Linked DNA regions of Homo sapiens: regions 2, 3, 4, 5 and 6 are each linked to region 1. The links come from fine-mapping of genetic effects on gene expression. A gene starts in region 1. Each other region holds a variant in brackets. All regions are shown on one strand. Distances are from middle to middle.

Region 1 (5,076 bases):
CAACTTGCAGCTGCAAGTCATGCTAGCTTTCTGGTTCACTGCCTACTTGGGCATAAATAACCAGTACACTGGCTCCTACTTTAACTACCACTAGGCCTGGCACAGTTCCAGGCTCTTTGGGTACTGACGTTGTGGAGTCCATAAAGTTAATTTTCCAGACAAACTTGATTTAACCTGGTATGAACTTCAGACGATGCAGCTCTGGGGAAATTCACACTGACTTTCTCACTTCATTTCAAAATATTTTTTTTAATTGTCAAAAAGAAACATTCATGAACATAGACCATATTCTTTCTGGGTCATAAAACAAAATAAAACATTTCAAAGAATTTAAGTCATATAAACTGAGTTCTCTGAAAATAATGGAATTAAACTAGAAATCAATAACAGATATCTTTAAAAATCACCAAATAGTTGGAAATTAACACACTACAAAAATAACCCATGAGTCAAAAAGGAAGTCACAAGGAAAATATTTTTGGGCCAGGCATGGTGGCTCACATCTATAATCCCAGCACTTTGGGAGCCAATGCGGGAGCATCATTTGAGGTCAGGAGTTCAAGACCAGCCTGGCCAACATGATGAAACCCTGTCTGTACTAAAAATACAAAAATTAGCTGGGCATGATGGTGCATGCCTGTAGTTCCAGCTACTTGGGAGGCTGAGGTGGGAGAATCGCTTGAACCTGGGAGGCGGAGGTTGCAGTGAGCCGAGATCACACTATTGCACTCTAGCCTGGGTGACAGAGTGAGACTCCATCTCAAAAAAAAAAAAAAAAAAAAAAATATTTTGAACTGAATGAAAATGATGATACAACATATTAAGATTTCTGTGATGTATTTAAAGTGGTGCTTACAGGAAAAATTATGGCATTAAATGCTTATATTAGAAGGCGGGGTGCAGTGGCTCATGCCTGTAATCCCAGCACTTTGGGAGGTTGAGGCAGGCAGATTATCTGAGCTCAGTAGTTGGAGACCAGCCTAGGCAATATGGTGAAACCCTGTCTCTACAAAAAACACAAAAATTAGCCAGGCGTGGTGGCACACCTACTTTGGAGGCTGAGGCAAGAGGATCGCCTGAGCCTGGGAGGCAGAGGTTGCAGTGAGCCAAGATCACACCACTGCACTCCAGCCTGGATGACAGAGCAAGACTGTCTCAAAAAAAAAAACAAAAAAAATTCTTCCAAACATTTAAGGAATTAATAATACCAATTTAATGTAAACATCTCTAGAAAATAAAAGGGAAGATAAACACTTCCCAACTCATTTTCTGAGATCAGCATTATCCTGATGCCAAAATTAGCAGATATTACAAGAAAACTATACATCAATATCTCTCAAAACATGAATGTAAAAATTTCCAATAAAATATTACTAATCAAATCCAGCAATACATTAAAATGATAAAATCATAAATAAGTTGGGTTTATCCCAGGAACAAAAGGTTGGTTCAACATCTAAAAATCAATATAATTCACCGTATCAACAGACTACATAAAAACAATTAGGTGGTGCACACCTATAATTCTAGCTACTCAGGCCTGGCAGAAGTGGGAGGATTGCTTAGGCCCAGGAGTTCAAGGGTACAGTGAGCAGTGATAACACTACTGCACTCCAGCCTGGGTGACAGAGCGAGACTCCCTCTCAATTAAAAAAAAAAAAGAAAAGAAAGGAAAAGGAAATGATCACCTCTAGATGAAGAAATGCATTTGATAAAATTCAACATCCATTCATAATTTTAAAAAGCAAACAAAAACACTAAGCAAACTAGGAATGAAAGTGAACTTTCTCAACCTCCTATTAATAAAAGGCTTCTGTGTTAGATACATATGGTTGCATAACAAATTACCCCAAAACATAATAGCAAACATATTTCAGTTTCTAGAGGTCAGGAACCCAAGTATGGCTTAGCTGGGTGCCCCTGGCTCAAGGTCTCTCACAAGATTGAACTTACATTGTCATCTGGGGCTACAATCTCATCTGAAAGCTCACTGGAGTTGGGGTGGTGGGGGAGATCCTCTATCCTCAAAAGGCTACATACGGTCTGATTCCATTTTCATGACATTCTGGAAAAGGCAAAACTATAGAGACAGAAAACAGATCAATGGTTGCCATTTGCAAACAATTTCTGTTCACAGACCACCTCTAGGCCATCCTTGTACTGGGTTTCCAGGGCAGCCACCAGCCCTCTCTCCTCAGCTCCAGGCTCCTTTCTGAACCCTTCCTGGGTTTACATTTAGTAGCATGCTGCTTGACACGGGATTGGCCCCTGTTTCATAGACACTGTGTTAATTTTCTCTCCTCGGGTACTGCTTCCAGGACAAGTACCCGCATTGATGCTGGCACTGGGAACGGGACGGATGATAAAGTGTGAGGCACTCTGCCCAGTGGCAACTGACATGATTTCATAATTTCCCCAGGTCCATCCGCTTCCCGCCAGTGTGCTCAGATTTGAGCAGTAGGAGTCCGTTGGGAGAAAGATGGGGGAAAGGAACCAAAAACAATTAAGGCAGACTCTGTAAGCTTCCACCTCCCACACCAGAAAAGTCCCACAGCAGAAGACTGCCGTGGAACCTTCCCTACTGTAGAGGAAAGTGCTGACTTTAAGCAATTTCTGCAGTCACGCCTTCCTCTTCTTTCCTTTCTCCCTCTCATTCATTCACTGACGCCGCAGCACTGATCAGCACAGACACAGAAGATGCCTCCAAGGGACCAAAGGGAATAACCGCGGTTCTGAGGTGTGGGGACTGCTGTTGCAGGGAAATGTGGACCGCTCAGGAGGGGCTCCTAGCGCAGGCGTCTTGCTCCGCAGACGCGGTTACAGCTGCGCTTTGCACGGCCTGCGGAAGTTTGCAAATCTAGCAGGTCTGCTCTCCCGGCAGCAGGACTCGGCCCGCGGTCAGGACAGCTCCCATGGACGGAGGGCGGCCCTCCGAGGCCTTTCCCTGCAGCCGGGAGGGCGGCCGGGCTGGGCCGGGCCGGGGGTGGGAAGCTGGGGCGCGGCGGCCCCGCCCAGGCAGACCCGGGGCGGGAGCCGGTTCCCATAGGGATCGCGGGCCGAGCCACGCCGAGCCGAGCTGGGCGGAAGAAGGCGAGGCGGGAGCCAGGCCCGTCCCTGACCGCCGCGGCGCCGTGAGTCCCGGGCGGGCAAGGAGGCGCGGGCCGTCCCTGGCCAACACGTGGCACCGCTCCATGCTGCGCGGCGCGGCTGAGGTGCACGTCCGGGCGCGGGAGGGTTTTCCCAGTCCCGGGGGCGTGGGGCGCGGGGCGCGGGTTGGTCTCCTGCGGCCAAGCCTCGCCGCCGCCTCCGCGGGGAGCCGGGAGGTGTCTTCTTGCCGCAGGGAAATGAGACCCGAAATTAGAACCGGGGAAGCCCTTAGCCCTCCCCGTACTCCAGCCAGCTCAGGTGTCTTAGATCGGATGAACGATAACGTTAAAAAGATAGCTTATCTTACAGCTCGGCTCGTTTTAGGATGGCAAGTTACATTTTAACTTACAGGGTATTTAACGGGCGATTAAAATCGGGTTACTGGAGGCAGCTAACTCTAGGCTGTTACTCCTGATCGCGTTGCCATTGCCGACACGGGTACACTCTTCATTCCTTAACATGTGCTGTTCTGTTCTAGGACCGTGACAAACACTCATCGTTGGGTGGGGCTCTAGTGCAGTCCGTTGGTGCCAATATTTTATAAGCGACGTTTTCAAACTATGTGAAGATCCTTTCTTTTCTTTTCTTTCTTTCTTTTTTTTTTTTTTTTTTTTTTTTTTTTGAGACGGAATCTCGCTCTGTCGCCCGGGCTGGAGTGCAGTGGCGCGATCTCGGCTCACTGCAACCTGCGCCTCCCAGGTTCACGCGATTCTCCTGCCTCAGTCTCCTGAGTTGCTGGGACTACGGGCGCCCATCACCACACCCGGCTAATTTTTTGTATCTTTAGTAGAGACGGAGTTTCAGTATGTTGGCCAGACTGGTCTCGAACTCCTGACCTCAGGTGATCTGCCCGCCTCAGCCTCCCAAAGTGCTGGGATTACAGGCGTGAGCCACCATTCTCGGCTGAAGATCCATTTTAAGAAGATTTATTCCTCTATGATGGAGAAGTATGAAAAAATTGGGAAAATTGGAGAAGGATCCTATGGAGTTGTTTTCAAATGTAGAAACAGGGACACGGGTCAGATTGTGGCCATCAAGAAGTTTCTGGAATCAGAAGATGACCCTGTCATAAAGAAAATTGCCCTTCGGGAAATCCGAATGCTCAAGGTAATTGATTCACTTTTCCTTTTTTTTCTTTTTCGAGACAGGGTTTCACTCTGTCTCCCAGGCTGGAGTGCAGCCATGTGATCATAGCTCACAGCAGCCTGGAACTCCTGGGCTCAAGCCATGCTTCTGCCTCAGCCTCCTGAGTAGCTGGGATTACAGGTTCTAGCCACTGCTCCGGGATCCACTTTTTCTTTAAAGTGAATTTTTAGGGATGAAAGAAATAAAGTGAGTCATGTTATGTTAAAAGAATGTCATGGGACATGGTTATATCTTACTTCATAGCCTTTTGACTTCAGTGACACAAATGGGATATCTGTGCACAAGTCACTAATTATATAATGAACTAGAAAGCAGAGACAAAAGTGCCAGGTAAGGTGGCATTCACTTTTAGAGATGCTGTGGGATATTTATTTTTCTTCCCCATAATTTCTCTCCCACCTGTAGACCTGGGTTTTCAAGGACCATTACAATTTGATAGTATAGGAATGTAAGACAATTCAATTTTGCTGGCATTGTTGATTTTTAAACTTCTAAGGTATTTCCTATTGGTATACTCAGTCTATTAAGAGAATTAACATTTACCTGTTTTCAAACTGCTAGGAAGCTCACAGATTCTCATTACACCTCATATGTATTTACTGCTGAGCATCATCATGTCCCGTTTCTAAAAAGAAGCGTTTTTCTTAAAGAAGTGAAATGATCACTTTCTAATTTTTTTTAACATTTTTTAGAGATGGGATCTTGCTATGTTGGCCAGGCTGGTCTCGAGTTCCTGGCCTTAAGTGATCCTTCCACCTTGGCCTCCTAAAGTGGTGGGATTAC
Region 2 (5,076 bases), 240 kb after region 1:
TTTTAGAAGAATGATAGTGCTCCCAGCTATATGTCTTTCACTAAAACTTTTAACGTCATTCTTTGTATAAGAAGATGAGATTATTTATGTATCAGCAATAAATAAGTAATTCTTTTCTACTAGCTGTGATGCATTTGTACTTATCTACAATCACATTAAATCCCTTGATATGACACATACATTTATGAGGTTGCTATTGGGTGGGGTAGGGGGTGGGAGTATAATCTTCGTTTCTCAGTCATATAAGCTCTTTATGTATTTCTAAGCATTTGCTGTGTTCTCAGTCCTGTACTTATAACTATGCTAAGTACAAAAATAACATAGACTGTCATGATATTGTGGCTTTCTTGGGGACTTTACTGGGGGAAAAAGACACATGAAACAGTTATATATTGTTCTACTTGGAGTGCTTAAGTGACTTAGAAAAATACATCCCTATACAATTTCAGGAATAGCAAAGATTAGGCCAGAGTAATTAGGGAAGGCATCTTGGAGAAGGTAAAATCTGAGACTGCCCCTAAAGGATGTATAGGCTTTAGATAGGTAGAAAGGTGACTGTAGGTATTCAGGGTCATGAGAAATAGTATGAACAAAGACAAGAAGGCAGAAATGAGAATGGTGTGCTGAGGACACAGATAAGGACATTGACCTGAGAGGAATGTAGGCATTGTATTGCAAGTAGTAGATGAGATTACCTGTATGGAATTGGATGGAGTGGAAAACTGTGAAATCCAAGCCAAGTTATTAAACCTGTTTATATAAATATTGAAAGATTTCTAGTAAAATGGGTGGTAGTAATTTTTCTAACATTTTATTATGAAAAATTTTAACATACAGCAAAACTGAGAATTTTACAATGAACACCCATAAACCCACCACCTAGATATGTATTCATCTATTCATATCTATTCATTTATGTGTTCATTTATCATTCATCTATCAGTTCATTTTTTTGTATGAATTTTGAAGTACACTCCTTAAATACTTCAACTTGTATGTCATTAACAGTTCAGTGTTTGTTTTTCTTTTGTTCTAAAATGTGCATATAATTAAATACATTTTTTTCTTGCTGCCACTGAAGACAGAAGATACACACATCTTAAGTGTACTTTTGTTGAGTTTTAACAAATACATGTATCTCCATAATCCAAACGCCTTTCAAGATATCAAATGTTACTACACCCCAGAAAGTTCCCTTATGTTCCTTCTCATCAGTTTTTGTTCCCACTGCCCAAAGGCAGTGTTCCAATTTCTCCCTCCATAGATTAGTTTTACCTGTTTTAGAGTCTTAATAAATGCATTCTTAAAAACTCAATTTTGTGTCTTCTTTCACTCAACATGCTTTTGAATTTGTATCAATGGCTTATTTTATTGCGAGGTTGTGTTTTATTATATGAATATACCAGTTTATTCATTTTTCCCATTGAAAGATACATGGGCTTTTTCTCGTTTTTTATTATTATGAATAAAGCCGCTATGAACTTTATCTTACCTGTCTTACTGTGAATATTTTTCACTTTTCTTGGGTAAACAACTCAGAGTGGAGTGGCTGGGTCAGAAGGTATGTGTATGTTTAGTTTTGAAAGAAACTGCCAAAACTTCCAAAACATTCTCACCAACAATGTTCAAGTTGCTTCATATTCTCACCAGTGTTTAGTAATGTCAGTCTTTGTGCCTTAGCCATACTGCTGGATGTAGTGGTATTTCATTCATACTTATTTTGTGGAGAATCTGTTCAAATCCTCTAATTTTTGTTGAGATACTTGTCTCTTTATTACTGAGTTGTAGGAGTAAATTGGGTAGGACTGAATGCCAGTCCTTTGTCAGATAAACATTTTGCAAATATTTTCTTTCCATGGCTTGCCTACTAGTTTCCTTCCTTCCCTTTCCTTTTCCCTTCTTCCTCTTCCATTTCCCTCCTCTTCCCTCTCCCCTTGTCTTTCCTTTCCTTTCCATTTGCATAGTTGATTAAATCTCTCTTTGCAAGGTTATAGGTAATCATTTTTGTGATACTGTAAAACAAAACAGTTCTATTTTTGTCTTTTGAAATGAAATAAGAGACTGTAGTATATGTGTAGATTACATAGAAATTTGATGATAGGCTGGGTGCAGTGGCTCACGCCTATAATCCCAGCACTTTGGGAGGCTGAGGTGGGCGGATCACCTGAGATCAGGAGTTCGAGACCAGCCTGGCCAACATGGTAAAACGTCGTCTCTACTAAAAGTACAAAAATTAGCCCAGCATGGTGGCGGGCGTCTATAATCCCAGCTACTTGGGAGGCTGAAGTAGGAGAGTCACTTGAACCTGGGAGTTGGAGGTTGTAGTGAGCTGAGATC[G/A]CACCATTGCACTCCAGCCTGGGCAACAAGAGCAAAATTCCATCTCAAAAAAAAGAAAGAAATTTGATGATAGCACTTGCATTTAGAACCAGATACAGTACATCTTAGTTGGTTTTCCATTTTAAGTGAAAAAGTACCAAAATTTAAATCTTAAAAATGCTTTTTATGAACTTAAAATAGCTTTTGTAATATAGAGCATAAGTTTTCTACATATGAATAAAGGGTACTTTTCCTTAACATAAATGGGAAGCACAGAAACCACTATTTTTATGCTTATAAATATTTTAAAAGTATACATTTTATTAATAAATAATACACCGTTTGGAGACCTACTCTCCTCTTGTCATTGAAGCATTTAAAGTATTAATTAAATACAGATTAGAGAGTCTTTGAGTATTATGTTGACCCTTGTATGTAAAGCTATTATCGTGGCATTAGAGAAGGAAGAAGTGTAATTGAACACTTATGTTTCACTAAAATGTGTTTCTTTCCATTTTATCAGGATCTTAAATGTATTTCGGCATTGGGTTGAACATCATTTTTATGACTTTGAAAGAGACTTGGAATTGCTTGAAAGACTAGAATCCTTCATTTCAAGTGTAAGAGGTATATTATATAAAGGTTTGATTGAATCTTATATTGAACATGAGTTTATGTTCAAATTTGTGTGACTTTAAGAAACTAAAACATTTCTCTCTCTTTTTTTTTTTTGAAACAGAGCTTTGCTTTGTTGTCCAGGCTGGAGTGCAGTGGTGCCATCTCAGCTCACTGCAACCTCCGCCTCCCAGGTTCAAGTGATTCTTCTGCCTCAGCCTCCCAAGTAGCTGGGACTACAGGCACATGACATCACGCCTGGCTAATTTTTGTATTTTTAGTAGAGATGGTATTTCACCACATTCACCACAAGACCAGCCTGGTGTCTTGAACTCCTGACCTCAGATGATCCACCTGCCTCAGCTTCCCAAAGTGCTGGGATTACAGGCATGAGCCACCATGCCTGGCCAGCATTTTTCATTTTTAAAAAGCTGAAATAACATTTGGAATGTTTTTTATAGACAGCAAGAAACTCACATATGTTTAGACCAATCATCTGAGGTCTCAGAACTTTGCCTTTTCAAGTTTTTGAGGAGAATATTTCTTTTAAAGAAGTCGAAAGTTCTTTTTAATAAATTTAAGCTATTTAATTTTATCTCATTGCAAGGTTGCCATTTCTTCAACTGAATAAAAATATGTGTAATTTTATGTTTTCTTTCTTTAATCTTATTCTTTTAATGATTAACAGCTTTCTTATAATATTTACATCTTCTGGAAATGTTTTTGGTATATTTCTGAAATCTGAAAGAGAGGAGTTTTCTATTTTAAGTTTCAGAATCATAGCCCAAGAAATGAAACCCTAGGCCATGAACATTTAAACAAATGTGTCATCAAATGTATATTATTGAATCAAGAACATTTATGTTTTATCTGACATTATAGGGCATTACAAATACTATAACAAGTGTAACTTATTTCGTGTTCTACTTGTTCTTTAAGGGGAATATTATTTAAAGTTAAGAATGTTATTCCTTTGTTTCTACTTTGAGATGTTTATGATACATTTTTATGTGTGCCTTGAAATTGTCATAATACTACATTTTCAAGTTGTATTCTAGGCCAGTGCAATGGCTCACACCTAGAATATCCCAGCACTTTGGGAGGCAGAGGCGGGCTGATTGCTTGAGCCCAGAAGTTTGAGACCAGTCTGGGCAAAATGGCAAAACCCAGTCTCTACAAAAAATATGAAAATTAGCCAAGCATGGTGGCATGTGCCTGTAGTCCCAGCTACTCGGGAGGCTGAGGTGAAGCGATCACTTTTAAGCCCAGAGCTCGAGGCTGCAGTGACCCGAAATTGCAACACTGCACACAAGCCTGGGCAGAGTGAGACCCTGTCTCAAAATAAACAAAAAACAAAAATTTATATTCTAAATGAGAATACTGGATTAGACACAATCTAAGAAGCTTCTAAAATACACACACACATTAGAATAAATTAAGTAAATGGTTATGTTAATGTCCAAAGTTCTTTTCTATACTAGTTATACTTCAGAATAACCAAATAGTTCATGAGGAAAAGTTTATTTTTGTGGAAGTATTTCAGCTAGTAAGTGAAGAAGGAATGGTAGAATATCACATTTCTCAGGTCCTAGTAAAATAATAAACCTAGGGAATTATCATGACTGGATGGGTACTATCACAAAAAGTTAACTAGACATTATATGCCTCCTGTTAGAAGTATTCTTGGCAAGTATTTGTGTCATAAAATTAATCCTGAATCAGACCAAGTCACTATATCTCTGCTTTACAGAAAATATAGAGGACAGAAAAACATGGCAAATGACAATTTCTTCCACAAAGTGCAAGCAAAAATATGCAATAAAGCAGTAACCTGTAGATTAAAGGAGACTTGAGACACATTGACTCAGTGCAATATGTGCAATCTTGTTCAGATCCCTTTTCAAACTAAATATAAGAAAATATGGCCAGGCACAGTGGCTCATGCCTGTAATCCCAACACTTTGGGAGGCCAAGGCAGGCAGATCACTTGAGCCCAGGAGTTCAAGACCAGCTTGGGCAACATGGATAAACCCTATTTCTACTAAAAATACAAAAATTAGGCCAGGCGCGGTGGCTCACGCCTGTAATCCCAGCACTTTGAGAGGCCAAGGCAGGCAGATCACGAGGTCAGGAGTTCGAGACCAG
Region 3 (5,076 bases), 50 kb after region 1:
AGAGCTTGCTTTTGAGCTAGAAGAGCTATTAAAGGGAGTAAAGAATGAGAAGGAATTGAGCCCCTTTTCTTCATACCTGTTCTAGCCCTTCCCCACTCTGCCCTAGAGCTCAGCCACAACCACTATTTACCACCAATGTGGAAACAAATATCTTAAGGTGGAATGAGTTCCCTAGCCTTGCTAGCACGGGCTACAATTTTAAGAACATCTTCCTTAGGCCAGGCATAGTGGCTCATGTCTATAATCCCAGTGTTTTGGGAGGCCAAGGCAGGAGAATCACTTGAACCCAGGAGTTCATGACCAGCCTGGGCAACACAGCAAGACCCCCATTTCTGCAAAAAAAGTATTGGCCAAGCACGGTGGCTCACACCTGTAATCCCAGCACTTTGGGAGGCCAAGGCAGGCAGATTACCTGAGGTCAGGCGTTCGAGCCCAGCCTGGCCAACCATGGCCAACGTGGCGAAACCCCATCTCTACTAAAAATACAAAAATTAGCTGGGTGTGGTGGTGTGTGCCTGTAATCCCAGCTACTTGGGCGGCTGAGGCAGGAGAATTGCTTGAACCCAGAAGGAGAAAGTTGCAGTGAGCCAAGATAGCACCACTGCACTCCAGCCTGGGTGACAGAGGGAGACAACGTCTCAAAAAAACAAAACAAAAAACAAACAACAACAACAACAACAACAAAAAGACAAGAGAGAAGAACAAAGAACATCAAAACATCTGCCTTAGCCTGAAGGGTCCAGCCAGTCACCCAGACTCTTCCAGAGCTGTTAAGTTTGTTGAATATATTCATATTTATTTAAGATTGCATGAGGCAGAGGGCATGGCGATGATACCCCTTACTGTGCATGGCTCTTGGGTCACACTGTCCTGTCAGGATGGGTTGCTTTTGCCACCTGGAGTGCAGTTATCCCGTCATCTCCCTCTGCCATCCTCCCAGAAACTCCTGCTGCTTCCCTCCTGCATTGGGTCTCCAGCCCACATAATCTTCTTTGATAATGGACTGCTCCTTTCTGGTGGACTGCATCCATGAGGGGCTTCCTGAGAAAGAGCAGATGAGAGGTACAGGAACAAATAAGAGGTTGAGACCTTGCCCTCACATGCTTTATTCTATCCTCACACTGGTTTGGTATTTTGTTTGGATATAGGCTTGTTTATTGGTTTTTGGTTGAAGATAATATTCCTTCAAATTTTTGAAGTCATTATTTTAGTGTCTTCTATCTTCTAGTGCCAAGAAGCCTGATGCCATTCTATTTTCTGCTCTCTTGTGAAGTCCTGTTTCTTTTTCCAGAAACTTGTAGGAGATTCTCTTTGTGCTCAGTGTTTTTGATTATGAAACTCATGAGTGTGTCTTGATTTTCATCCATTATCCTGGCACTTGCTGGGCCTTTTCTGCCTCAGAAAAAAATTTTTGAATTGTTTTGTTATTGACTTCCTGTTCATTGTTTTACCTATTTTCTTTTTCTGTACCCTCTATTATTGGGATGTGGACTCTTGAACTGGTCCTCCCATTTTCTTGTAGTATCCTGTTCTTATTTCATGGATACAACAGCTTTCCTGTTCTCTCTGAGGATATTAATGGTATTTAAAAATGTTCTCTTCATCCTCCATAATTTCTGTTTCTTTTAAGTTGCTTTTTTCTGTTTGTTCTGGTCTTCTACTTTCTTATTAGAGGCTTTTCTTGGGCATCATATAGTCTCTGGTTATATGCTCATAGTTAAGAACAAGGAACTACTGGAAGCTCTGAGCTTCACTATGGTTTTCTAGCTGGGCCATTTGCTGGTGGAACCCCAGTGTCAGAATCTTCAGAGCTTTCCCTCTGAGCTTCTCCCAAAAAAGTCTTTGAATATTGTGCCTGGAGAGTGAAGTCTGCCTGCCGGGTTTCCCAGAGTCTAGTGAGGGAAGAGGGGTGGGGAATCCCAGCATTCAGCATTTTGTATGTGTACAGTCCTTTAATCCCCTGTTTTCAGAACAGTATCCACATTTTCAGAACGGTATCCACAATCTCACGTATGCCAAATGTCCTCTGCTTTATCCTTTCCAGAAACAAAGCTCCAGCCTTCTGCCCAGTAGTGGAGAGTGTTTCCCTATGGGCAAATGATAGAGGAGGGGATCTAGGGATTTAATTATTTTCTAAACAGTTTTTTCCATACTCCTTAGCTCCTAGTTCCATAGAGACTTTGGCTGCTACTTCCCGAGCCTTTTGAGGATTCTTTCTGGATGAATTGGTTGGTTCTCCACCTTCCCTCTCCTGGCTTAGATTTTCGCTTTCTAGGATTGTTAAGTTAATTATCTTTCATTCAGTTGCTTTCTGGATTCCACATTGTGTTGCTGTTATCTCTTCTCCTGTCCTCTCTGACCTTGTGAGGTTTTGTCTTTAGAAGTCTTCAGCGTAGTTCTAGTCAGGTTTCAGGAGGGAACAAAATTAGCTGGGCTTGCTTAATCCATCATCTTAATTCAGAAGTCCTTTGACACACTTTCTTCAGTTGGTCCTGTGATACTGTATTCTCCTGAGTGTTGTCTTATTCACTTGATGCTCTCAACTCAGGTGCCCTTGTGGGGTCCCCTTCCTCTTTCTGCTCCTCTGTGGGGAAGGGTCTCACAGCTTCCTTCC[G/A]AGCTCCTCTTCTTTAGCTGGATTCACTCCTTAATTGGCTTCATTCAGTCCTAGGCCCCAAATACCACCCATATGCTATGCTTCTCAAACTCATATTTCCAGCCTGACCTTCCTTCTGAATGTAGAATTGCTGACTCACAGTCTTCCTTTGGGTGTCCAGTAAGCATTCCCTTCCCCCAAACCAGTTTCCCCTCCAGTGTTCTCCTGAGTAAAAGGCACCACTGTGTACCAGTTACTCAAGCTAAAAACCTGATGTCATTCCTTGATTCTTCTCTTTCTCCCACATCCAATCCCTCAGAAAATCCTGGAAGCTCTATTTTAAAAATATAGCCCAAATCTGGCCACTTCTCACCACTTAACCACTATTTTAGATGTTCCCTTAACCAGAGAACCTTTCTGGGCCATCCTATATAAGGTGATCAACCCCTTCTAGCACAGCACTCTCACGCTGTCTCTCTCTCTCTCTCTCTAAATCCAACACCACAGAATATATTCTATCTATTTTTCCCCTTTTTATAGTTGTAACTCCCTTCTCCAACAGTGAAAAACTGGCCCCTCTTATTATGAGTGTTTCAGCTAAAAGGGATCTCAGAGTCTGAGGCCTCTGCATTACAGAAAAGAAACTGAGTAAAGAAGTGAAGTGAGTAGCCAGTTCAAGATGGCACTAAGTAGTTTGTACAGAGTTTTTACATTTGAGAGTTTTGTAATTCTGGGGATTAGCTGTGCTGGGGATTAAAGGAGCAATAATGATATGCAACTATAATTTACTTTTATATGCTCCTTTTATATAATTTATTTGGGGAAATGTTTGTAGGAACTAAAGTTGCCTGGTACTGGTAACCCTATATTAATACTTAATTTGCAGGCCGGGCATGGTGGTTCACACCTGTAATCCCAGCACTTTGGGAGGCTGAGGTGGGCGTATCACTTGAGGTCTGGGGTTTGAGACCAGCCTGGTCAACATGGTGAAACTCTGTCTCTACTAAAAATACAAAAATTAGCTGAGTGTGGTGGCACACACCTGTAATCCCAGCTACTGGAGGCTGAGGCAGGAGAATCGCTTGAACCTGGGAGGCAGAGTTTGCAGTGAGCTGAGATTGTACCACTGCACTTTAGCCTGGGTGACAGAGCAAGACTCCATCTCAAAAAAAAAAAAAAAACCAAAAATTTAATTTATTGAATAATCAAAATATATTCCATTTTTCTGGACAAAATGTAGAGGCTACTGGGAAGGCTGAGGCAGGAGGATCCCTTAAGTCCAGGAGTCCAAAGTTCAGTGAGCTATGATAGCACCACTGCCTCCAGCCTGGGCAGCACAGCAAGACCCTGACCCTAAAAAAAAAAAATTAAAAGTGGAGGCTGGGGAAAAGCATTCCCCCTAATGTCTCATCTTAGTTGCATTTTTCTAAGCCTTTTTTCTCGACAGTGACTTTTTCTAGCATCTATGCCTATATGCCGCTCAAACAAGGAAAAGAGAATTTGGAGAGAAGCAACTTCAAACACAGGGACATAGACCTGGTCCAGCAATGTCCCAACTAGCCTTCCTGGAAGTGGCCTCTTCCTTTCCTTCATGTGATCCCACTCTCTGTTCAAACACCCCCTGATCTGCTTGAAAGGATTTCCTGAACGTCTGGCCTGTGACAACAGTGGCCTTGTAGCCTCTCTCAGAGGCTACAAGTGACTTTTTGTAGTCCCCTTAACACAGCTACTCAAGAGCTTCCTCCCTGATTTACTTATTCGTTTTGGCTGAGGACCACAGCAACACTGTGGAATGTTTATCAAAACAGTAAGTCCAGCCAGTGGGTTGGGGTCTCAGAAAATAAATGCACTCTCTCTGTGGTTCGTTTCTTACACTCCCTGCCTTGGTTTGTTGTTGTTTTAAATGTTTCCAGGCGAGATGCCTCTTTCTAATTCACACAAAGTACCTGCTGGAACTACTGGTTGCCCTGGTAATAAAAGATGTGAGTCAGGGAAGAAGTACTGGGAGCAGTGGCTTGAAGTTTAGCTGTGGTGATGGAGGAGAGAGTAGAAAGATGTACCTGGGCTGCAGCTGGCTGCCATGGCAGCATAGGGAAAGAACCAGGATGCCTCAGGTTTTTAAATTATTATTAACATTTAATAACAATTTACGATGGGGGAGCAAGAGAGACTGCATCAAGACCCTGGTAGGGCAGATCTGGGATGCTAAAAAACAAATAGAATGGTTTGCAATGTAAAGCTCTTTGCTATAATCAGTAAAGTCTTCATTATCTAAAAAACCAAACAAACAACAGCAATGCTGCTCTGAGAGACCACATGCCCACACATGGAAGATGAGTCCTGCTTCAAGGCTGTCTGTTTGGGGCAACTTGAGAAAATAAACAGCATCTTTTGTGCTGAATAGTAACTTAACTTTACATCAATAAAAAATTCCTTGTGAAAATGGAGCTTAAGTTACCAGGCAGTTTCCCAGTGGTGTCACA
Region 4 (5,076 bases), 170 kb after region 1:
CCAGCTGCTCAGGAGGCTGAGGCAGGAGAATCACTTGAACCTGCTAGGCAGAGGTTGCAGTGAGCCGAGATCACACCACTGCACTCCATCCTGGGCGACAGAGCGAGACTCCATCTCAAAAAAAAAAAAAAAATTACTTGCATCTCTATCTGCTGAAAAGCTGTAACTTAATCTTATAGATGTGTAAAATAGTCAGTAGAAATTAATAAAAGATTCAAGCATAGCACTGTACTGAAACACAGCCAGTATTCTTTTGCTTATTTTCCAGTTTTGGCTAGTTTTTATGAAAACTGGATATCTATGTCTATATCCATGTATATATCCATATATACCCATATATAGATCCATATATATATGTATTTGACAAAGTCACCATTGTCAACATTGAAAATTCAAGGGATTTTTAAAAAACCAATCTCAAGTATTCATTGCATTACATAGAAACACAGAGATGGGCTGGGCGCAGTGGCTCATGCCTGTAATCCCATTTGGGAGGCCAAGGCGGGCAGATTACCTGAGGTCAGGAGATCGAGACCATGCTGGCTAACACGGTGAAACCCCATCTCTACTAAAAATACAGAAAAAAACCCAAAAAATTAGCCGGGCGTGGTGGCGGACGCCTGTAGTCCCAGCTACTCGGGAGGCTGAGGCAGGAGAATGGTATGAACCCAGAAGGTGGAGCTTGCAGTTGAGCCGAGATCGCGCCACTGCACTCCAGCATGGGCGATGGAGTAAGACTCTGTCTCAAAAAAAAAAAATACCAAAATTAGCCAAGTGTGGTGGTGCATGCCTGTGATCCCAGCTACTCGGGAGGCTGAGGCAGAGAATCTCTTGAACATGGGAGGCAGAGGTTAGAGTGGGCTGAGATCGCACCACTGCACTCCAGCCTGGGCGACAGAGCGAGACTCTGTCTCAAAAAAAAAAAAAAAGAAAGAAAGAAAGAAAAAGAAACACAGAGATAGACAAATAGGTTTATGGAAAAATAATTTTGGGAATAGAAATGTGGTGTTCTTTAGCTTTTTGCTTGTTCTTAAACTTTTAAAATAGAACCTCACCTAGATCATTTAAAAACAGAGAGCTACAAAGCAGAGTGAAATGACACTACTAATGGATAATGCATGGATTGTTAACATTACTGCTAAATTATGTATCTTCCCTAAAAGAGCCTAGAACATAATTGCCTTCACCACTGCTCCCCAAGATCATTGAAGCTATTGTGTTACTTGGGGAAAAAAGAGCATGGTGTATATTTGTAAATGCAGTTTATTACCTGTGTCGTTGAAATCCCTTGGTACTATATGCATGTGTTATTTGATTATATGTTGAGATAAATCAGCATTCTTCATATGGGAAATATGCCTCAAAATCATTTTATCAGATTTTACAGTCCCTGATATTTATTTTGTAGATGTCTTTTCTGTAAGGTGTTTTTCACCAGGCTAGCCATAGAAAAGAACATGGCTGTTTTCTTGCCAGCTGTAGTTAAAAATGTCAGAGAAAGCTAGAAAGAATTGGTTGAATTACTTTGTTCCTGAGTCCAATTAGATTCAGGTTAAATATCGACCTCCCCACCCTGTGACAATTTGCTCTTAGATATCTAAAAGGCAAGAGGTGTGAGAGAATGTCTGGGTTAATTAATAGCAGTCTACGGCAAGGAAAAAGATCGGTAGGGGCTTTGATTTAAAAATGGTTTTGTGAAGTTCTACTGAGATCCTAGTGTTTCTGCGTTTGTACAAATGTCTCTTGGAAGTTTGTTTTAGAAGATGGCACTGGATCTTTCCTGAGGCCCACAAGAAAAGTACAGGGTGATCTGAGAAAATATAACTGGTGTCATTGATATATGAGAGTCAAAGAAGACTTTAAGCAAGCAACATTTGTGCTTCTTTCTGGATTATATATTCAAATATAGTAATATTACTGTCTCCAGGCTGGTCTTGAACTCCTGGGCTCAAGCGATCCTCCCACCTTGGCCTCCAAAAATGCTGGGATTACAGGTGTAAGCTACGTCGCCTGGCTGCAGACACTGTTCTTGATACGGAAGATGTAGCAGAGCCCCTGCTGTTATAAAGCTTGTGTTCTAAGTGGCTGTGGCAGAGAGACAGACAATAAGGAAGTAAACAATTATCTGAAAGATCAGTAGAATTAACAAGAAAAAAAAAGGGCGGGGGGGAAGGATTTGAGGCTGAGGGGAAAGTAAGAACATGATTTGTTTGTTTGTTTGTTTTGAATAGGTCTCAGATTCTGAATTTAATGACTTATTTTAAAAAACAAGAAGAATAAGTGGATGAAGCTAGTATGGTAGACTGTAGGTACACTGAGTTAAGGTCTCTGCCTGAGAATAGGAAGTCCTGTTGGGTTCTCATTTACATAGCAAAGTAATTAGATTAACTTGATCAGAATTGCTTTTTGAAAAGATTACTTCAAGTCAAAGCCAAAAACTAATAAGAGATCCTGTGATTTTTGTGACATGAGCCTGTTCTGGAATTCCTAAAGCCGCTGAATGTAACAGTAGAACTCGAGGGAGTCATTTGGAATTAT[T/C]CCAAACTAATAATGACCCAAACTGACCCGAAGAGTTCAGCCAGAACTAGATGAGCGGTAGGAATGTACTTTAACTTGCTGTACTTGGCTCCCTGTCAGCAATGATTAAGTAGCCTTCTATTTTTGGTTTAATTTTGGTATGGTATATTTGGAGCAATAATATTCCATTAAAGTGTTTTATGCTGAGTATTCAAAGCATTACCTGTGTTACCCCTTGACATAAATCAACTATATGTCTTTTGTATTAACCATGGACTCTCTTTCAAGGGAACAGTAATTTGATTATATCCTGCATATTTGAATCAAAAGGAATTTTAATGTAACTAGTGGATTTAGCATTATCTCATGTTAAAAATTAACAACCAAAAATTATTTTCTTCCATGGGCCAGGTGCAGTAGCTCATGCCTGTAATCCTAGTACTTTGGGAGGCTGAGATGGGAGGATTGCTTGAGGCCAGGAGTTCAAGACCAACCTGGCCAACATAGCGAGACCCCATGTCCATAAAAAATTATTTTCTTCTTTTACATAAGAATATATGCTAGTACAAAGTTTTTTCAAATGGATAAAGTATTACACATTCACATTTTAACATGTAGAAGTGAAGCAACAAGATGAAAATAATACCAAGATCTAGATATAAGGACTAGTATTAGCTCTTCTAAGTAAAGTTTTCTGTACTCCAGTTTTCTTCCTCATTAGGTCATTTTGTAAACTCAAACACTATTTCTCTCTCTCTCTCTTTTTTTTTTTTTTTGACAGGGTTTTGCTCTGCTACGCAGGCTGGAGTACAGTGGCATGATCATAGCTCACTGCAGCCTCCAACTCCTGGGCTCAAATGATCCTCCCACTATAGCCTCCTGAGTAGCTGGGACTACAGGCATGTGCCACTACACCCAGCTAATTTTCTTATTTTTTTTGTGGAGACAAGGTCTTGCTATGTCCTCTGGCTGGTCTCAAATTCCTGGACTCAAGTGATCCTCCAGCCTTGGCCTCCCAAAGTTCTGGGATTACAGGAGTGAGCCACCTGCCTGCCAAAAACTACTTCTTACATACAAAGTATATTATAGTTCTTTCTTAACTGACCTATTAGCAGCATTTGACAGTTGATCTCTTCTTTTTTTGAAATCCTTTCTTCATTTGGCTTCCAGAAGAATATCAAGCTTTCAGGGATTTTTTTTCTCTGAATATTCCTTCTAGTTTCCCTTCCCTTGATTCCTCCTCATCTTTCTGTGACCACATCCTTCTGACCTCCCCAGAGCCCATTTATATATATGTGTGTGTGTGTGTGTGTGTGTGTGTGTGTGTGTGTGTGTGTGTGTGTGTATATATATATTTTTTTTTTTTCCTGAGACGGAGTCTTGCTCTGTCACCCAGGCTGGAGTGCAGTGGTGCGATCTTGGCTCACTGCAACCTCTGCCTCCCAGGCTCAACCAGTTCTCCTGTCTCAGCCTCCCGAGTAGCTGGGATTACAGGCGCGCACCACCACGTCTGGTTAATTTTTTTTTTTTTATATTTTTAGTAGAAATGGGGTTTCACCATGTTGGCCAGGCTGGCCTTGAACTCCTGACCTTGTGATCTGCCCGCCTCGGCCCCCCAAGTGTTGGGATTACAGGCGTGAGCCACTGCGCCTGGCCAATTTTTAGACTTCTATTTCTATTAACACATCCTCCTTTGGAGATGCCATCCTGCCTCATTGCTTCACGTATAATCTAAATCTGATAATTACCAAATTTACATTTCTGGCTCAGACCTCTTTCTTAAACATGAATGTTCAACTCTTTTTTTGAGACAGGGTCGCACTCTGTCACCCAGGATGGAGTGCAGTGGCAAGATCACAGCTCACTATAGCCTTAACCTCCTGGGCTCAATGATCCTCCCACCTCACCCCCCTGCCGCCCCCATATAGCTGGGACTACAGGTGTGTGCCACCACACCCAGCTAATTTTTTGTTTGTTTGTTTGTTTTAGATGGAGTCTCGCTTTTTTGCCAGGCTGGGGTGTAGTGGTGCAATCTTGGCTCACTGCAACCTCCACCTCTCAGGTTCAAGTGATTCTCCTGCCTCAGCCTCCCGAGTAGCTGGGACTACAGGCGTGTGCCACCACGCCCAGGTAATTTTTTTGTATTTTTAGTAGAGACGGGGTTTCACCATGTTGGCCAGGATGGTCTCAATCTGTTGACCTCGTCACCTGCCCGCCCCGGCCTCCCAAAGTACTGGGATTACAGGGATGAGCCACCACGCCCAGCCCCAATTTTTAAAAAACTTTTTGTAGAGACAGGGTCTTACTGTGTTGCATAAACTGGTCTCCAACTCCTGGGCCCAAGCATTCCTCCTGCCTCAGCCTCCAAAGTGTTTGAGTTACAGGCATGAAGCACCACACCCGGCCAACTTTTTACTTGATATTTCCACAGAGGCATCTCAACCAACACTGTATCCTTTTCTTCCCCTGCAAACTTGTTTCTTTTGTAGTGGTTAACATATCAATAAATGGCTACTCCATCCTTCCGGTTGCTCAAACTAAAAATCTTAAGTTATTCTT
Region 5 (5,076 bases), 210 kb after region 1:
ACTAGCAGTTGAGTTCTGTATTTTCTTTCTTTTGTTTTTAACCTATTGAATTATACTTTTTTTTTTCCTTCTGAGACAGACTCTCACTCTCTCAACCAGGCTGGAGTATAATGGCGTGATCTTGGCTCACTGCAACCTCTGCCTCCTGGGTTCAATCCATTCTCCTGCCTCAGCCTTCTGAGTAGCTGGGATTACAGGCACTTGCCACCACGCCTGGCTAATTTTTGTATTTTTAGTAAAGACAGGGTTTTGCCGTGTTGGCCAGGCTGGTCTCGAACTCCTGACCTCAAGTGATCTGCCTGCCTTGGCCTCCCAAAGTGCTAGGATTACAGGCATGAGCTACTGCGCCTGGCCTTTGTTTTTGTTTTTGTTTTTTTTTAAAGACAAGGTCTTGCTCTTTCGCCCAGGCTGGAGTGTAGTGGCGCAATCTCTGCCCAGTGCAACCTCTGCCTCCCGTGTTCAAGCGATTCTCCCACATCAGCCTCCTGAGTAGCTGGGATTACAGGTGCGTGCTACCATGCCTGGCTAATTTTTTGTACTTTTAGTAGAGACAGGGTTTCGCCATGTTGGGCAGGCTGGTCTTGAACTCCTGACCTCAGGTGATCCATCCACCTTGGCCTCTAAAGTTCTGGGATTATAGGCGTGAGCCACCCATGCCTGGCCAGAAAAATCTGAAGCTAACAGGAGTGGGGTATGAATATATTTTCTCTTTCATGGTAGTATTACTCCATCTGTTTCAAGAGCTAGCTTGCTCGCTCCTTTTTTTTTTTTTTTTTTTTTTTTTTTTTTTTTGTGACAAGGACTCACCTAAGCCGGAGTACGGTGGTGTGAACACGGCTCACTGCAGCCTCAACCTCCAGAGCTCAAGTGATCCTCATGCCTTAGCTTCCTTTGTAGCTGGGACCACAGGCTTGAACCACCATGCCTGGCTGTGTTTAAAATTTTTTTGTAGAAACTGGGTCTCTCTTTGTTGCCCAGGCTGGTCTTGAACTCCTGGGCTCAAGCAATCCTCCCAGTTTCAGACTGGTGACCTTCTAGTGAATAGGGTCTCTAGGTTTGTTTTTTAAATTTTTGAATTATTTGCCATCCATTTATATTTACAGATCTAAAAATTTTACATAAAAATGTAAATCCCAGACTTTTCATGAAAAAAGAAAATCAGAATGCCTAACAGAAAACAGCTGGCACTGAGCAGCACACTTCCTCTTTAGGTGCATGTACCTTCCGGTTTACCATAATCCCCACTGTTTCTTATATATTATAATGTTACTTGCCTGACCCCTGTAGCATTTAAATTCAGGAACTTTGGTATTATGTGACCAAAAGAGTTTTAAGAATGGAACTCTGGAGTGGGTGGTAGAGAAGGTAAGTCATAGAGGAGGCCCCACTGACAGAATGGTGTATCAGAAGCCAAGAAGAGAAAAATTGTTTGGAGCTGGGGGGTTTATATGTGTTTTTTCTTATTTAGAGATAGGATCTCATTCTGTCACTCAGGCTAGAATGTGGTGGTACAATATTAGCTCACTGCAGCTTCGAATTCCTGGGCTCAAGTGATTCTCCCACCTCAGCCTTCAGAGTAGTTAGGACCGCAGGTGTCTACCAGCATACCTGGTTATTATTTTTTTTTACTTTTGGTAGAGATAGAATCTTGCTATATTGCCCAGGCTGGTCTTGAATGCCTGGCCTCAAGTGATCCTCCTGCCTCGGCCTCCCAAAGTGCTGAGATTGTAAGCATGAGCCACCATGCCTCGCCCTGAGAGTTTTAAGAGTTTTAAGAATGAGAGAATGGTCAGCTGTGTCAAAAACTAGAGAAAACAAGTAGGAAGACTAAAACACACCATTAGATTTGACACTAGATCAATAGTGAGAGCAGTTTTAATATAGTAATGGGCTTGCTAAGTGAATGGGAGCAAGAAGTTACAGCTAGCAAGTATGACCTACTCTAAAAGGGTCTCTGGTGGGGAAGAGAAGAGGGTGGTAGCTCTTCTGTGTGTTTTTATGTCTTATGTCTTCCTTTATTTTGCATGTCTGTTTGAAATCAGAGTTCATCACCAAATTCCCTGTGTAGCCTTACTGGTTTCTTTAAATTTAAAGTGGCTGGGAAGTGGGGATGATGGTCTCCAATGACAAGAAGGTGGATTGCATGGAGTAAGCAGTGGGGAAGGGAGGGATTTGAGAGTGTCACAGAACATGAGATTAGGAAGGTGGGTTGGAGTTAAATTATGAATGGCCTTTATCCTAAAGAAGTTAGGATTTTATGCAGAAGGCAATGAAATCCAGTATCATTTTTATGTATCATTTATTTTTAGTAACATGATTTTAGAACTGGGGTTGGGAAGACCTGTGGCAGGCAGATCAAATTATGAAACTTGTGTATCTTTTTAAGAGATGGTGATTGTTTAGTGGAGTAATCTAAAGCCTGCGGTAAGATGGAGAGAGCTGACCAGATTTAAAAGATGCTTATAAGATATTTCTGAGTTAGATTCAAAAAGATTAGGAAGGCAGAGTTCATGTTTACTTTATTAGCATATTTTACCAACATGTGGTACAGTTTATGGTGATCAGTAGATGTTTTTCAGAATGAATGAATGAATATCTGTTATTGTGTTGTCAGAATTTCCTCTCATCCCTTTGAAGTTTTTACTTTTTGTAGTTTCCTTTTCAGGGTATACCTTTATGCTGAACTCTCTGGGTACGTTTCGGTCAGTCTTAAATATATAATTAACTAGGTCCAATCATTTTTTTTAAAAAAAAGTATTATTAATTATAAAATGTATGGTCACAGCCAGGCGCAGTGGCTCACACCTGTAATCCCAGCACTTTGGGAGGCTGAGGCAGGTGGATCACTTGAAGTCAGAAGCTCGAGACCAGCCTGAATAACATGGTGAAACCCC[G/A]TCTCTATTAAAAATACAAAAAAAAATTAGCCAGGCATGGTGGCGTGCACCTGTAATCCCAGCTACTCAGGAGGCTGAGGCAGGAGAATCACTTGAACTTGGGAGGCGGAGGTTGCAGTGAGCTGAGATCATGCCACTGTACTCCAGCCTGGGTGAGAGAGCAAGACTGTGTCTCACAAAAAAAAAAAAAATAAAAAATAAAGTATAGTCAACTTTCTTTTTCACTTTGATTTATAGCTAGTTCTTGCCTGTTGGTTGACCTAAGTCCATGGTAGCATTTCTGAAAGAAGAAGTGGTTGCTACAACAATTTAAGCATCTGTGAGATGTTTGGGTTTAGCAAATGAACGTAATAGCAGTGGTCATTGTAGTAAATGTGCATCAGAAATGCATCGCACTGATCTATCGTGTGCCTCTACCATAGTAGCATTTCACTTTTCTCCTTTTAACCCTACTCAAATATGTACTGTCATCCTTATAATATGGCAAGGAACTACCATGTTGAATACCTACTATTTGCTAGATGTAGTAGTATGCATTTTATATACATTACCACATTGAATTCTTCTTATCAGCTACATTTTACTCATAAGGAATGTGACTTTCAAAAGAATAAATGTGTTCATAATCATAGTCGAGTAGTGGCTGAACTGGGATTTTTGGCTCGGGTTATTGTTCCCCAAAGACAGGCTTGCTTTTTTTTTTTTTTTTTGCTATTATGTGTGTGTGTGTGTGTGTATTACAGTATACATATATACATATACATATGTATTAGTACATATTTCACCATTAGTTCATATCTCCAGAAATATTTATTTTGCCATACTCGATTTTATTTGAATATTTCCCACCTTCAACAACTTTTTTTCCTTTTATTCTAGGTTTTATCATATAAATTTACTTATAATACACACAACTCATTGTGTAATATTTGTGTGTGCGTGTGTGTGTGTGTGTGTGTGTGTGTGTGTGTGTGTGTGTGATGGAGTCTCGCTCTGTCGCCCAGGCTGGAGTGCAGTGGTGTGATCATGACTCAACTGCAGCCTTGACCTCCCAGGCTCAAGCAATTCTCCTGCCTCAGCCTCCCAAATAGCTGGGATTACAAGCGCCTACCATGACGCCTGGCTAATTTTTTGTATTTTTGGTCGAGACAGGGTTTCACCATGTTGGCCAGGCTGGCCTTGAACTCCTGACCTCAAGTGATCCTCCTGCCTTGGCCTCCCAAAGTGCTGGGATTACAACACCCAGCCCTGTTTAATAACGTATAGATTTCAAGTACTTTGAGGCAGTTTTTATAAAAGTAAAGAAAATAAATTTATACATTATTGATTTCTGTTTCTCAGGTTTTGATGGACATGTTTGATCAGGATGACATAGGTTTGGTTTCTCTCTGTGAAGATGAACCTAGTTCTTCTGGTGAATTAAACTACTATGATCTTGTCAGAACTGAAATCGCAGAAGAAAGACAGTATCTACGGGAATTAAATATGATCATAAAAGTGTTTCGAGAAGCCTTTCTTTCTGATAGAAAGCTGTTTAAACCTTCTGTAAGTACCTTTTTGGGTTTGAAATTCTGTGTACCCCAAAAAACCAGACCAGCTTAAAATCATAAATAGTCACTTTTTTTTATTTTTTTGAGACGGAGTCTTGCTCTGTTGCCCAGGCTGGAGTGCAGTGGCGTGATCTCAGCTCGCACCACTGCAGCCTCCACCTCCCGGGTTCAAGCAATTCCTGCCTCAGCCTCCTGAGTAGCTGGGATTAGAGGCATGCACCACCACAATCGGCTAATTTTTTTATATTTTTAGTAGAGATGGGGTTTCTTCATATTGGCCAGGCTGGTCTCAAACTGCCGACCTCAAGTGATCCACCTGCCTTGGCCTCGCAAAGTGCTGGGATTATACGCATGATCCACTGCACCCAGCCCATAAATAGTAACTTTAAATACTTTATGAGTACATTAAAAATACTTTCATGTATTTGTGGGCTTTATAAACATGTGAATTGTTATATAATAGGTACAGTGACAATGAAAATTAGGCACAAAATTAGAAGGAGGTTTATACTGGGGTGAAATCATTTTCCGTTATGCAGTTCTGATATTTAGAGTCATTCATTTGGAGGTGGTGAAAAAGATGTATGGTCTAGGAAAGGAAGACCTCTGCATTTTTCTGTCTTTTGGTAAGT
Region 6 (5,076 bases), 63 kb after region 1:
ATGCCACTGCATTCCAACCTGGGTGACAGAGCAAAACTCTGTCTCTAAAAATAAGAAATACCATGTAGTTAAAAAAAAAAAAAAAAGACGGTTATAAAACAGTGTAGGCTGGGCATGGTGGCTCACGCCTGTAATCCCAGCACTTTGGGAGGCCGAGGCAGGTGGATCGCTTGAGCCCAGGAGTTCGAGACCAGCCTAGGCAACATGATGAAACCCTGTCTCTACTAAAAATACAAAAATTAGCCAGGCACGGTGGCACACACCTGTAGTCCCAGCTACTTGGGAGGCTGAGGTGGGAAGACGGCTTGACCTTGGGAGGTGGAGGTTGCAGTGAGCCGAGATCACGTCAGTACACTCCAGCCTGGGCAACAGGGCCAGATTCCGTCTCAAAACAAAAACAAAAACAAAACAAACAAAAAAACCAGTATGTATAATTTGACAAAGTTTTAATAAAAATGTAATATGCACACAATGCATATATACATATATTTACATATATAAATACAAAATAATGTGACAACATCTGGGAAATCACAAAGCTTTTTTTTTTTACATTTGTGAAATAAATGGCTGCAAGGATATATATCAAAATACTAAGAGTGGATATCTCTTTTGGGTGGGATTTTGGGGTAACTTTATGATTTTTTATATTTTTGAATGTCTTCTAATGAGCCTGTATTGTAATCAAAAACATTTCAGAGCATAATTAAGGTCTGTGAAATCTTGAGTTTCTACTGAGGAAGGTATCTTAAAAATGAAACTAACCCTCCAGTTTCTCACTAAACCCTTCAGTTTTCAGATGGAAGTTCTGTCTCTACCACTTGTGTTTTGTTTGTTCCCTAACCTCTTGGCTTGTCCCACAATGAAGGTTTCTGCTTCTCCACTGCCTCTTCCTCCTGTAGCACTAGCATTCAAAGTGGGTCTTGCTGGGACGGAGGGGCAGGAATGACACCTGACATATGGGAGGTGACCCATCTGGCTTCCTTGTGATCTGGACATTCCCAGTTGTGCACTAAATATCCCTAGTGATTTCCTGTTCACTTGTCTGTTGGTGAAGCCTCAGAAATAACCCAGGTTTCATAAATGTAAGAAGCTTCCCATGGCTTCCCAGAGATTGTCCTGCAGATTTCCTGTTGACAGAAACACAGGAAGAGGCAGTGCGGGGGCTGCACTGGTTGAACATCTGTGCCCCAGTCCCTCTGCCTGTCAGTAACCCTGACAGAGGGAGGCCTGCTTGCTTCTGGGGCTGTGAAACGCTCACAGATGGGCTCCAGCGTATCACAGGCAACCAGTTGGCCTCATCCAGACATTGTTGCTGAGACAGCAGAGCTCGATGATATAGCAATGGCACGTCAAACCCCAGTGATGCTCAGATTCAACCGACAGAAAGAACAAGAGAAATATTTAAGCTATGGAGCATGAGTGGAAGTATGAGGGTGCAACAGGGGCTACTGTCAAGGGCTAATACAAACCTACTTTAGGATTTTTTTTTTCTCCTGTTGACATAGGGAACTCTGAAACAGAGGCTCTTCTCTCCTACTCTTATCAATGATTAGTATGTGTACAATCCAGAATTGGTTATTGGGAGCTGGTTGCCTGTCCAAAATAATACTGTACTGTGAAAGCTGGCCACAGCACCAGGACTGTTTGATTAGATGAGCCTGGCCAGTCACTCCAGTCGGCAGCTCACACACTGCCACTTTTATACACACAATGCACTGCAGTCACTTATTTTGCTCAGCTTGGCTGGCTCTTATTTTCTCAGCCTCTCTGCTCAATTAGCCTTTGTCAGTGGTATGTCTCTTTAACTGGCCTGTTTGTCTGCCTGACATTCGGCATTCCTCCCATTTATAGTGTTATTCCTGATTGTCTCCAGCACGTGACTGGCGCAAAATCGCCTTATACGGCCAAAAGGAGATTGACGAATGCCCCACAGGAGACTGTTTAAACAGCAGGCTGAGAAGGGAAGCAGCAGGCCCTAGTGGGAGGAGACAACAGTGTTTATTCCAGAAAATCAAGAAGCATCTGTTCACCTGGGTAGGGGAAAAACATCTATTTTGCAGCTCCCTTTATATAATTAGAATTAGAGCTGCCTTTTTTTTTTTTTTTTTTTTTTTTTGAGACAGGGTCTTGCTCTGTCGCCCATGCTGGAGTGCAGTGGCACATTTATGGCTTACTGCAGCCTCAATCTCCCAAACCCACGCCATCCTCCCGCCTTAGCCTCCCAAGTAGCTAGTACTAGAGGCGCACACCACCACCCCCAGCTAGTTTTTTGGTATTTTTTTTAGAGAGACAGACAGGGTTTCATCATGTTGCCCAGGCTGGTCTCAAATTCCTGGGCTCAAGCCATCAGACTTGGCCTGAGTGGATTATAGGCATGAGCCACCGCACCCAGCCAGCTACCTTTTTATAAATCACACTATAAATGCCAAAAATTATTCTCAGGAAAGGCAAGTTATATAACTTGAGCCCCCCCACCCCCTCAAAAAAAAAACTGCTCAGAAAAGTTTTTTTTCATTAGTATTTTTATTTATAATTTGCTATCTCCATTGGTATCAGAGCAGGAAGTTAAGGGAGTAGTTACGAAGCAAATTTGGAAAAGCGATTTGGAGGTGGGGAGAGAAAGCTTGTGAAAAAGGCAAAGGGAGACTGTTTTGGGCAGGAGGTTGGGTGGGCAAAGGGTGGAGGACGTGAGGAAGGTGCCAGGAAAATGTTTCTATCAAAAGATTTAATTTGAGGTAACCTTAATTTGAATACATGCTGTAAATTAAAAACCTCTTTTCTTTTCAACAGGAACCACTTGAATTAAAATTCCCAAACATCTCTTATCCTGCCCTGGGGCTCCTAAAGGTAAAAATCATGGCTTCCAACAGACCAGGAAGCACACAGCAGTTGTCATCACTGGGGAATCTGAATTACTTATGTCAATCCATGCAATGAAAAGTGTTCCTTTTAGAATTCTTCTCCTGGCTGGGCAGTGGCTCACACCTGTAATCCTAGCACTTTGGGAGGCCAAGGCAGGCAGATCACCTGAGGTCAGTTCAAAACCAGCCTGGTCAACATGGTGAAACCGTCTCTACTAAAAATAAAAAAAATTAGGCGTGGTGGCGCTCGCCTGTAATCCCGACTACTCAGGAGGGTGAGGCGGGAGAA[T/C]TGCTTGAGCCTGGGAGGCGGAGGTTGCAGTGAGTTGAGATTGCACGACTGCACTCCAGCTTGGGTGACAGAGTAAGACTCCGTCTCAAAAAAAAAAAAAATTCTCCTTGGAAAAGTATATTTTCAATTTTTTTAAATGGATCACATCCTATTAAGAAAACATTTGCAAGTATTTTCCACTTTAAATAAACCTAACATTATATTTGAAGTCTAAATTTACACAAAACAGAAATTTCAGGGGGGTGGTGATTGTTTTACAAAGGGAACTTTTTCTTCAGAAAATCCTTAGCTGCAGGATCCTTTTAAATAGCTAACTCCCTGGTACATTTGAAGTACATTTAAAAACTTGATATATATATTTATATATATATATATTTAGAAATATAGCTCTTATGTAAAATGAGGTATGGTATCAACTAAAATGTTTGCAAGTTACAGTCAATGTCCCACATGGTTTAAAAATTATTTATTTACTGATGTATTAAATAATGAGTTAATATAAATGATAATGTAACTGTTACCTGAAAGGGGTCCCAATCCGGACCCCAAAGGAAGGTTCTTGGACCTCATGCAAGAAAGAATTCAGGGCGTGTCCACACAGTAAAGTGGAAGCAAATTTATTAACAAAGTAAAGGAATAAAAGAATGGCTACTCTATAGGCAGCAGTGCTGTGGGCTGCTCAACTGAGTATACTTACAGTTATTTCTTGATTATATGCTAAACAAGGGGTGGTTTATGAGTTTTCCAGGAGAGGGCAGGGATTTTCTGGAACTGAGGGTTCCTCCCCTTTTTAGACTATTTAGGGTAACTTCTGGGCATTGCTATGGGTATTTGTAGACTGTCATGGTGCTGGTGAAAGTGTCTTTTAGCATGCTAACACATTATAATTAGTGTACAACGAGGAGTGAGGACAACCAGACATCACTTTCATCACCATCTTGGTTTTGGCCGGCTTCTTTACTGCATCCTGTTTTATCATCAGGTCATTGTGACCTATATTTTGTGCCGACCTGCTATCTCATCCTGTGAGTAACAATGCCAAACCTCCTGGGAATGCAGCCCAGTAGGTCTCAGCCTTATTTTACCCAGCCCCTATTCAAGATGGTGTTGCTGTGGTTTCAACACCTCTGACATAACCAACAAAAACTGAGTCAATTCCTTGGAGTATGTAGTTGTGAAATTTAATCTAATCTATCCAAGAATGAGCTCCATGGCCTACTTAGTTGCAACAAAAATAGTTAAGAATGATGTAATATAAAGGCATGTACGTTATGCCTCTCCTTATATACATGATCATATATACTTATAATGCATCAACTATTTCTGGAGGGATACACCAAAAAAAAAAAAAAAAAAAAGTAGCTGATTTTAGAAGGGTGAAGGGAACACCTACAGTGGTGGAGACTTTGCTGTATGCTGTATTAACTGTATTTGTTATCATGTGTAAATATCATTTTTAAAATAAAAACACTAGTTTTTACAAAGTACATGCAAGGGACCAAACTGGCTAAATGGATTACCCCATTTGGCCACTGAGGTAAACTCTAAAATTATATCTTACTCTCCCAGGGCAGAGTACCAATTGCTTCAAGAACAGAATAAGGTGGAGAAAATGATTTTTCATTACTACTTCTAGAAACTATTTATTTAATATGTGAGTGCCATTTAGGAATGACTGGAAGGAACTAAAATCATGACTGGTGTGTTTTCCTGCCTTTTCCCCCTTCTTATTGCAACTGAAGTTTCATCTTTCAAAGAAGAAAAAAATGACATTAATAAGTTAATACAATTTTGAAGAAGTAAGAAGAAGGAATTTTCTGTTCTTTTAGGGCTGTCTCCACATGGACCCTACTCAAAGGCTGACATGTGAACAGCTGTTGCATCACCCATATTTTGAAAACATCAGAGAAATAGAGGATTTGG

Alleles and levels. Positions count from the first base shown, and alleles are read on the strand shown. Sizes are in standard deviations (SD) of each study's normalised expression. Not every link is listed here.
In carriers of allele G in region 2, the expression in cerebellar hemisphere of the gene that starts at base 3,074 in region 1 tends to be higher than with A alone (large effect, 1.0 SD a copy in GTEx).

The links.
Region 2: its variant is fine-mapped to the expression of CDKL1 in cerebellar hemisphere (GTEx, PIP 0.96).
Region 3: its variant is fine-mapped to the expression of CDKL1 in whole blood (TOPMed, PIP 0.92).
Region 4: its variant is fine-mapped to the expression of CDKL1 in whole blood (TOPMed, PIP above 0.99).
Region 5: its variant is fine-mapped to the expression of CDKL1 in blood mononuclear cells (TOPMed, PIP 0.94).
Region 6: its variant is fine-mapped to the expression of CDKL1 in whole blood (TOPMed, PIP above 0.99).

What each region holds. Positions count from the first base shown.
Region 1 is chr14:50,394,879-50,399,954 of GRCh38, reverse strand. CDKL1 (cyclin dependent kinase like 1) reads left to right here and starts at 3,074. Exons shown (of 10, transcript NM_004196.7): 1 at 3,074-3,131; 2 at 3,626-4,254. The coding sequence starts at 4,087. RefSeq lists silencers at 2,756-2,981, 2,921-3,370 and an enhancer at 2,663-3,162.
Region 2 is chr14:50,150,937-50,156,012 of GRCh38, reverse strand. It overlaps SOS2 (SOS Ras/Rho guanine nucleotide exchange factor 2), which reads left to right. Exons shown (of 23, transcript NM_006939.4): 13 at 2,840-2,943. Among named protein-coding and RNA genes, the nearest start is that of VCPKMT, 37 kb to the right of the region's middle. The variant G/A (reference allele first, on the strand shown) is at 2,338.
Region 3 is chr14:50,345,351-50,350,426 of GRCh38, reverse strand. The region is part of intron 3 of CDKL1 (cyclin dependent kinase like 1); the gene reads left to right. Among named protein-coding and RNA genes, the nearest start is that of DMAC2L, 36 kb to the right of the region's middle. RefSeq lists an enhancer at 2,622-2,916. The variant G/A (reference allele first, on the strand shown) is at 2,615.
Region 4 is chr14:50,223,101-50,228,176 of GRCh38, reverse strand. All of the region lies in intron 1 of SOS2 (SOS Ras/Rho guanine nucleotide exchange factor 2), which reads left to right. Among named protein-coding and RNA genes, the nearest start is that of SOS2, 5.9 kb to the left of the region's middle. RefSeq lists an enhancer at 1,843-2,369. The variant T/C (reference allele first, on the strand shown) is at 2,539.
Region 5 is chr14:50,187,860-50,192,935 of GRCh38, reverse strand. It overlaps SOS2 (SOS Ras/Rho guanine nucleotide exchange factor 2), which reads left to right. Exons shown (of 23, transcript NM_006939.4): 5 at 4,236-4,439. Among named protein-coding and RNA genes, the nearest start is that of SOS2, 41 kb to the left of the region's middle. The variant G/A (reference allele first, on the strand shown) is at 2,895.
Region 6 is chr14:50,332,339-50,337,414 of GRCh38, reverse strand. It overlaps CDKL1 (cyclin dependent kinase like 1), which reads left to right. Exons shown (of 10, transcript NM_004196.7): 8 at 2,794-2,850; 9 at 4,983-5,076. Among named protein-coding and RNA genes, the nearest start is that of DMAC2L, 23 kb to the right of the region's middle. RefSeq lists an enhancer at 1,251-1,872. The variant T/C (reference allele first, on the strand shown) is at 3,154.